Homo sapiens: one gene and its partners. The protein of the gene in region 1 purifies or fractionates together with the protein of each later gene. This does not show direct contact. Each region holds a gene or a part of one and is shown on either strand. Other genes may lie near its edges. The genes, in order: SETMAR, TRUB1 and CAPG.

Region 1 (2,357 bases):
TCATGGGATAATAGTCAAGTGGAAGTATATTTTTAAATGTTTTCTCTCAAAAGAAGTGTCAACATTCTCAAAAATATGGCAATGAAGCAAACAAATGCAGTTAACTTGCTGCTTAGAAAAGACTTGGAATAAAGACTCTTTGACTCTTACCTTAGGAATCTGGTTTCTAGGATTAAGTGCTATATAATAAACTAGTGCCTGAGGACAAAAAATTTCCAGGGGTCCATATTCAGTCAGTTGTCTCTGGCAGAGGCACTGAGTTGGAGGGGGCTGTTTGTGTCCTTGTCTCTGAATGGAAGATTGTCCTCTGGGAATATCTCTGCTGTTCAATATAGAAAGGCAAAAGGACATAGAAAAGGGTATCTGCAGAATCAAATGGTGAGCCAATCATTTTCCTTCTAACCACTTCCATATTGCGTCTGAAGCAGCTCAGTTATTAGGTGAGCTTGTGAGCAAGAAAAAGCACATTTTGGAGTGAGGGATACAAGCTGCCTTATTAAAAGCAGGACTGCTTCAGAGGCATTGAAGTAATAGAGGACAGTTGGCATGGAGAAATGATTAATTTGGAGGAAAATTTTTGATACTATGTATTTGTAATTTGGGGCATTTTATGTGTACTCTAGTACCATTTGTTCACAGGGAACCATTCCATGTAATGTTATATGAACATTATAAACCCTAAGATACTTAAAAACGACCTAGCTTTATTGAGATATAATTCACACGCTGTATATTTCACTCATTTAAAGTGTACAATGTACTTATATTACAGAGGAATAGTGTTATATATAACATGGATTCCTATAATGTTGAAAGTGCAGGGCCTCCTAGTGGTAGGGTTTAAATGTACTAGAGAAGAAATTAAATTACTTAATAATATCATAGGGGCTCTAGTAATTATTTTAGCTTTCAAAATGTCTGATAAACCTCCACAGTAACTGTATTTTTGCAACATCCCTGCTTTAAGGAAGGTAGTTAGAGATGTTTGCTGCTCTAGAAGTTTAAACGGGATCATAAAACTCCCGTCTCCTTCTGTGGTGTGGACAGGGTTATTTTTCTGTTATTTATACATGAAGTGAGGCTGTTTGAAGTTTTGAAGCATAACTTCACAAGATTTGGAGTACAGCCAAGTATATAATGAAAATGAAAAATTTACAATGTGTCTCTTTTTCTGACTTTTGGTTACAACATGTAAGTCATTTTCATAGTTATATTTTTCACTACTGGTAGTACTTATTAGGGTTTTAGCAGGTGATAGTTAATAATGCCTTTTTCCTTGATCCATGCTTAGAAACAATTAAGTAGGACGCAGGAGTCAGACAGAAATCAAAAAGTCAGCTTTATTACTGTTAAAATTGGTTGGCAAGCAGGGTTTAGGTATGCAGCCACAAGGGTTTCTTGGATCATTATTAGGTTCGATGTTAGTGCTAGAAAACTTACAATAACAGTGACTTAAGCAAGGGAGAGACTATTTCTCACCTGAAAGTACAAAGGTGTCAGATCACGACTGACAGGATGTTCTACAGTACCAGACACCTAGACTCCTTTTAACCTTGTTGATTTTTCTATGCAATGGCTTCCTTTCCCAGGGTCATCCTGGGGTCTAGGATGACTGCTCCAGTTCCAGTCATCATGTATACATTCCAGCCAGCAGGAAGAAAGAGGAGGTGAAGGGCAGGATATCTCCATTTAAGGACTTGTCATTTTTGCTTATATCCTATTAACTAGAACAGTCACTAAGACAAATCTAACTAGGAAAGTGAGTATTCTGGGTAGTCATGTACTTTTGTTAAATGGAGAATTCTATTACAGAAAGGGGAAAGGATACTGATGGACAACTTGCAGTCTCTGCCACATTCCTGAGTTAAACTTATGTAACTAGGCAGAGGTAAAGCTAGCCAACCACTGTCTTCCACTATAGGGAGGGGCAAGCTGCTTATCACTGAACAGACTCACCTCAAGGGTCAATCGCTTGCAGGAGGGGAACACAGAAGGGGCTGAGCCACACATGCTGGGTTCCTTCTCATTTCCACAACTGATGTTCGACTTTTCTACGGGGCAGTACAGAGAACTGTCAAAAGGCAGGAAAGCAGTACATGATTTGGCACCACAGTAACAAGGTTTCCTTAGTTTCCCATGATCTAGCCTTTCTTTGTCTTCACTGACTGTTAGATTAAGATATCTTCCTGAATAATCATAAGAGAGTTCTTCTTCTGGCACAATATCTTTGGCTGCAAAAAGTGCCAACTTAGGTACCATTGAGTCAATTCGGACAGGAATCATCAAAAGGTTTGGCTCACAAGAATGATTAAGGAATCTTCCAATATTTCCTATATAAGTAGGGTCAACAAATGTTT
Region 2 (3,659 bases), on another chromosome or scaffold:
CTACTCGGGAGGCTGAGGCAGGAGAATCACTTGAACCCAGGAGACAGAGGTTGCAGTGATCTGAGATCGCGCCACTGCACTCCAGCCTGGGTGACAAGAGTGAAACTCTTGTCTCAGTAAATAAATAAATAAACAAACATAAAATAGAAAAAAATCAGGCTGGGCACAGTGACTCATGCCTATAATCCCAGTACTTTGGGAGGCCGAGGTAGGTGGATTGCTTGAGCCCAAGAGTCCAAGACCAGCTTAGACAATGTGGCGAAACCCCATCTCTATAAAAAATTAAAAAATTAGCTGGGTGTGGTGACACATACCTATAGTCCCAGCTACTTGGGAGGCTGAGGTGGGAGGATCACTGGAGCCTGGGAAGTTGAGGCTGCAGTGATCTGTGATTGCACCACTGCACCCCAAAAAAACAAGCACAACAAAACAAAAACCCCAGTTAATAATAACAAGCATTTATTGAGCATTTACTGTATATAAGGTCTTCAGTTTTGGGTATTCATAAGTTCTATAGTTTAATTCTCATTGTAACCTATAAGAGAGGTTATTACTATCCCCATTTTACAGAAGAAGAAAGGAAGACCCTGAGAGATAAAGTAACATGTTCACTGTCATAGAATTAGTGAGTGACAAAGTCAGGATTTGAGCCCAGATCTGCTCAGTTCCAAATCATCTGCCCTATTGTGGATGGCAGATACCTGGTGCTCCTGCTTTTGTTCCTCATGCCCTGTGCTCTTGGCAGAAATTAGGGCTTCATGATTCTTACCAGCTTAGCACTTCAGTAGCCTATACCAGTTGATTAGAGTTGGCCTTTGAGTTGAAGCCTGTGTTTCTAACCCTTCTGCTTTACTGTTTTCCAGGCATGGCACCACAAATACAAGGAAAGAGAGGATCAGATCAGTTGCTTGTTTACGAATAGATCAATTCTATTAATTTCGGGTGGCGGTTCTTCATTGGCATGCAGAAAATAGTGATATTCAAGGCAGTGAATGAAAGTTTAGTTTTTACCCTGAACCTAAGGCTAGCTTGTCCAACCTTTGGCCTGTGGGCTGCACGTGGCCTAGGGCAGCTTTGAATGCAGCCCTACACAAATCTGTAAACTTTCTTAAAACATCATGAGTTTTTTTGTGATTTTTATTTTTTTTAAGCTCATCAGCTATCGTTAGTGTATTATGTGTGTGGCCCAAGACAATTCTTCTTTCATTGTGACCCAGGGAAGCCAAAAGATTGGACACTCTTGGCCTAAGGGATCTTGTTGAAGCTTCCATTTTAGTATTGTGAAGGGGCTGAGATTTGTATGCGTGGAAGAAATTGTATTGGAAACAGTTTTCTGGTTGGAGGCTCAATTTATATTTGATCACACAGGGAATTTTATGATGATATAATATGTTCATATGTCAGATGTATTAATTTTTCTTTTAATGCATGTGATTTCCGAGGAGAGAGAAAGTTTAAAAAATTGTAGGTGTTTAGTCACAGAGTAAGGGATGTTTGTTGTCCAAGTTAGCAGTTCTGGAAACTTATGAGAAGTCGATTTTTGATTGTGTGATAAAATAAACACTGAACTCTAATCATACTTCGGTTTGTACACTGGCTACTGGCTGCTTTAGTTACTAACTGTATACATCCTAAGAAAATCTCGTAACTTCACTGAACGTGTCTTCATCTCTTAAAAGAAGATAACGTCTACCAAAACTAAGTCAAAAGGTTTTCAAAAATATTTTACAAAATACCTATAGTATATAGATATATACTTTATCCTGTGAAGTGCTGTATACAGGTCTTTTTTATTTTTATTTATTTATTTTTTTGAGATGAGTCTTGCTCTTGTTGTCCAGGCTTGAGTGCGGTGGCGTGATCTCAGCTCACTGCAACCTCCACCTCCCAAATTCAACTGATTCTCCTGCTTCAGCCTCCTGACTAGCTGGGATTATAGGCGACTGCCACCATGCCCTGCTAATTTTTGTATTTTTAGTAGAGTCAGGGTTTCATCATGTTGACCAGGGTGGTGTTGGACTCCTGATCTCAAGTGATCTGCCCACCTCTGCCTCCCAAAGTGCTGGGATTACAGGTGTGAGCCACCATGCCCGGCCAAAAGGTCTTTTTTGAAACAAACAAACAAACAAACAAAACTAAAACTGGACCTATGCAAAAAAAATATACTTTTACTTTCAACATTTTTTTTTGCAATATTAATGGTGCAGATTAAGAATTTAGCTGACAATTTAAGATTATAACCTGAAATTCAGGTTTATAATTCTATAGCATAATTGCTAGAGGGTTCACAAGTTTCTCAAAAATACGTGGTAGGCAAAATAATGGCCCTCTAAAGGTGTCTGTGTCCTAATTTCCATAACCTGTGAATATATTAGGTTACATCACAAGGAACATTAGGGTTGTAGATGGAATTGATGTTGCTAATCAGCTGACTTTAAGATAGATTATCCTGGAATTTCCAAGTGGACCCAATGTAATCACAATATTCTTTAAAAGTGGAAGAGGAGGCAGAAGAGAGAGTCAGAGGAGATGTGGCAGTGGAAGCAGAGGTTGGAGTAATGTGGTTGCTGGCTTTGAAGAGTGAAGGGGATCACAAGCCAAAGAATGGGGGCAGCCTCTAAAAGCTGGAGGAGGCAAAAAAAAAAAGGTCCTCTACGGAGGCTCTAGTGAAGGATTCTCCCCTAGCACCTCCAGAGAAGAACACGGTCAAGCCAACCCTTTGATTTTAAGCCTAGTTAAACCTGTTTCAGGCTTCTCACCTCCCCAACTATGTGATAAAAAGTTTGTATTGTTTTAAGACAGATTGGTAATTTGTTAACAGTAGCAATAGGAAAGGAATACACCTATTTATCATAAATCACTTAAAATGTAAATAAAATTTCTATATACCATTTCAAAAAAATTTTTTTAACTTTAGAGGTTATAGAAACAGTGAGAAAATTTAGAAAATACAAGAAAGTTGCAAATAAAAAATTATCCATTTTCCACCTTTCATCAATAGTCAGTTAACATTTTTGCCATATTTCCTTGTAGCTTTTTGTCTATGCAGATTTTTAAAGTTGAGATCTACTTCACTGTGTATACTTATATATCCATTTTTTTAAACTTAACATTGTAACATAAACATTGTTCATGTTGATAAGCTCTTTGTAAACTTTATTTTTAATGGCTATAAAATGTTCCATCATATGGCTAAAATACCATTTATTAACCATTTCCCTATTTGAGGTCACTGAGGTTATCACCAGAGTTTTGTCAGAACTGATTTTGTGAGAGATGTCTTTATAGATAGAACTTTTTGTTTGTTTTGTTTTTAGTTTTTACCCACACATCTGTATCAGCCAGATGTTTCAGATTCTTAAAATAGATTCCTACGATTGGAAAGATACAGGTCTTGTAAGATGATCCTACAGAAAGCTGGAAATACATGTATAGAGTCCATGCCTGTCCTAAAGAGACTCTCATCATAAACAAATTCTATCTTTTTGATTTGAGAATGGGATACTAGGACATTGGATAAGTTTGGAGATAGTTATTTTTGTTTTTGTTTTTTTAACGGAAAAGACATTTGAGTGAGCACAGAACACTTGGGAGATAGAGTAGGAGAGTAGTAATTGTGCAACAGTGCATGGAAAACCCCGTTATTCATCTGCTCTCTA
Region 3 (3,216 bases), on another chromosome or scaffold:
GGGAGGGAAATTCCTAAGCAAGGTGGAAGGTGAGCCCTAGGTCATGAGGAGATTGGCTGGCTGAGGAGTATGGGCTGCGTCTTGTGGCGCTGAAGATTTGGGGCAGGGAGATCAATCCAGGAGCTCTTGGTGAGGACTACACGTGCTGAGACAAGGAAGGGGACAGGTGAACAGACCTCGCCATTACCAGAAAAGGAGAGGTGACAGGGGCTCTGCCTGGCAGGGCGGTGGGTAGAAGTGTGAGATGCTGCGCTCAAGGAGCCATTCAGCCATTCACCCATCCAGTCCTTCACTCAGTCAGTCAATATTTATTTTGCGCCTAAATCCATGCCGGGCTCTGTTTTAGCAGTGGGCCCACAGTGGTGAGCAAAGCCAAACAAAACCTTCATGTCCTAATGAAGCTCACTTTCTAGTAGGTGGAGATAGGTGGTTAAGAGACGTTTAAACATAGGAGATATGTGATGGGAAGAAAAATAAAGAGGTGCTGGGCGTGGCTGCTCACGCCTGTAATCCCAGCACTTTGGGAGGCCGAGGTGGGCAGATCACCTGAGGTCGGGAGTTCGAGACCAGCCTGACCAACATGGAGAAACCCCATCTCTACTAAAAATATAAAATTAGCCGGGCCTGGTGGCACATGCCTGTAATCCCAGCTACTCGGCAGGCTGATGCAGGAGGATCTCTTGAACCCAGGAGGTGGAGGTTGCGGTGAGCTGAGATTGTACCATTGCACTCCAGCCTGGGCAACAAGAGCGAAACTCCATCTCAAAAAAAAAAAAAAAAAAGAAAAAGAAAGAGGCTTGAGCCCAGCGGTTTGTAACCAGCCTGGGCAACATAGTGGGACCCCATTTCTACAAAAAATTAAGAAATTAGCCAGGCATGGTGGCAAGTGCTTATAGTCTCAGCTGCTTAGAAGCTAAGGTGCAACGATTGCTTGAGCCCATGACGTCAAGGCTGCAGTGAGCCATGATCACGTCTTTGCACTCCAGCCTGGATGACAGAGTGAGACCCTGTCTCGAAAAAAAGAAAGGAAGACAGATGGCAGGTGGGCAGAGAAACAGTTGCAGTGGGTGGTCGTGGGCATTTTCAGAGAGCCCTCTGTGCTGTGCTCTGCCTTCCTGGTTGTCCTGCCTCAGGGACAGTTCAGAGAGGAGAGAGGGAGAGCTGTGCGCCCTTCTCTGAGCTGGGGAGCAGGACACAGGCATCTGGCTCTGACCCGGACTTTCCTGCTTCCTTGCAGAACATCTTCGCCTGGTGTGGTGGAAAGTCCAACATCCTGGAACGCAACAAGGCGAGGGACCTGGCCCTGGCCATCCGGGACAGTGAGCGACAGGGCAAGGCCCAGGTGGAGATTGTCACTGATGGGGAGGAGCCTGCTGAGATGATCCAGGTTGGGGGACATTGGAGTGGGTGGCTGGGAGCCTCTGCTTGAAAGTGGCCAAGAGAGGTGGTGATGAGCTGAGGGCTGAGAGTGGCCGGTGGAGGGTGGCAGGGGCCATCTGGTGTACTGCCTAGGGCTGTGGCCAGCTCACAGGGTGCCCCTCTGGGTAGATGCTCGTCCTCGAGGCTGAGCAGCCTGGCTGGTGGGGTGGGCTGGACTCAGCCCTCACTCACCTCACCTCTGCTGGGTGCCCTAGTGCAGGGCGCAGTTTGCCCCACCAGAAGCAGTGGCCCTGGGCATGATGGGCTGGGAAGTTCCAGGGCAGGGGTCCCTATAAACCTGGCCTGCCCTGGCCCCTGCAGGTCCTGGGCCCCAAGCCTGCTCTGAAGGAGGGCAACCCTGAGGAAGACCTCACAGCTGACAAGGCAAATGCCCAGGCCGCAGCTCTGTATAAGGTGGGCCCCCCAAGCCTGCCCTGGGACCCGGCAGCAGGGAGGGTGGGAGCCTGCACAGCACAGCTGCATGCAAGCAGGGTGGAGGGGAGAAGGCAGGGGGAAGGTGGGGCTGGAACCGAGGTGGGAGGTGGGGAGTTATACAGGGCTGGGAGTGAGACAAGGATGGGGAGTGGGCGGAAGGCAGGCCCTCCTGAGGAGATGAGTGCACCTCACTTCCAGCCTATGCTTGGTGAAGGCTTGAAGCCAATGCTGAGCTTTTCTTTCTTGAATTCTGTGCATTTCTTTGTAATTTGGAATCCACCTAATTTCCAAATGGGTTCGGGGCCCCTGTGCTGCAGGGATTGGGGTGATGAGAGGGAGTGGGGCTGCCTGGAATTTGCTTTTCAGGTCTTCACTCTCTTGTCTGCTCCTGGGACCTGGGCAGTGGGCAGCGAGGCACAGTGGGAGGGACCTAGGGAGGACCAGCCTCCCCCTCCTCAGGCTGAGGTGAGGGCTGGTGTGTGGGGGGTGAGATCAGGCACTGTCCCTCCTCCCCAGGTCTCTGATGCCACTGGACAGATGAACCTGACCAAGGTGGCTGACTCCAGCCCATTTGCCCTTGAACTGCTGATATCTGATGACTGCTTTGTGCTGGACAACGGGCTCTGTGGCAAGATCTATATCTGGAAGGGTACGTGGCTCCTCTGTAACAGCCTGAGATGCCTGTAGCTGCTCTGACCCGGGCAGGCTTCCCTTTGCAGGACTCAGCCTGTCTAGCTGCTTGTAAAAGACAGCCTCAGGAAGCCTGCATGCTTCTGGCTGACCATTTTCTCTCTTTAAAAATTTTTTTTAAAAGATAGAGATGGGTTCTTTCTATGTTGCCCAGGATGGTATCAAACTCTCAGCCTCCAGTGATCTTCACCTTGGCCTCCCAAAGTGCTGGGATTACAGGCGTGAGCCATGGCATAGGCCTTGCTATTTTCTTTCTTTCTTTCTTTCTTTCTTTTTGAGAAGGAATCTTGCTCTGTTACCCAGGCTGGAGTGCAGTGGCACGATCTTGGCTCACTGCAACCTCTGCCTCCTGGGTTCAAGCAATTCTCCTGCCTTAGCCTCCCGAGTAGCTGGGAGTACAGGTGCGTGCCACCACACCTGGCTAATTTTTGTATTTTTAGTAGAGATGGGGTTTCACTACCAGGCTGGTCTCGAACTTCTGACCTCAAGTGATGCACCGGCCTCGGCCTCCCAAAGTGCTGGGATTACAGATGTGAGCCACTGCCTCGCCATTTTCTCTTTGCTGTTCCCACCTCCTAAATTCTAGACAATGGCTCTGAAACTACAGCAAGCCTCAGAATCACCCCACGGCCTGTTTAGATGGCTGGGCTCCACCCCCATAGATTCTGATTC

What was found.
Region 2: the proteins of SETMAR (region 1) and TRUB1 purify together in Homo sapiens (affinity purification with mass spectrometry; one large-scale study listed by BioGRID and IntAct). This does not show direct contact.
Region 3: the proteins of SETMAR (region 1) and CAPG purify together in Homo sapiens (affinity purification with mass spectrometry; one large-scale study listed by BioGRID and IntAct). This does not show direct contact.

What each region holds. Positions count from the first base shown.
Region 1 is NC_000003.12:4,313,361-4,315,717, reverse strand, and holds part of SETMAR (histone-lysine N-methyltransferase SETMAR), read right to left. Parts: coding exon 1,957-2,357; coding exon of another isoform or gene 1,879-1,956; exon of another isoform or gene 1,323-1,878; intron 323-1,322; coding exon of another isoform or gene 230-322; exon of another isoform or gene 151-229; intron 1-150. UniProt on the Homo sapiens protein: Protein derived from the fusion of a methylase with the transposase of an Hsmar1 transposon that plays a role in DNA double-strand break repair, stalled replication fork restart and DNA integration.
Region 2 is NC_000010.11:114,944,546-114,948,204, forward strand, and holds part of TRUB1 (pseudouridylate synthase TRUB1), read left to right. Parts: intron 1-3,659. UniProt on the Homo sapiens protein: Pseudouridine synthase that catalyzes pseudouridylation of mRNAs and tRNAs. Mediates pseudouridylation of mRNAs with the consensus sequence 5'-GUUCNANNC-3', harboring a stem-loop structure. Constitutes the major pseudouridine synthase acting on mRNAs.
Region 3 is NC_000002.12:85,397,307-85,400,522, reverse strand, and holds part of CAPG (macrophage-capping protein), read left to right. Parts: intron 1-1,237; coding exon 1,238-1,387; intron 1,388-1,740; coding exon 1,741-1,833; intron 1,834-2,370; coding exon 2,371-2,503; intron 2,504-3,216. UniProt on the Homo sapiens protein: Calcium-sensitive protein which reversibly blocks the barbed ends of actin filaments but does not sever preformed actin filaments. May play an important role in macrophage function.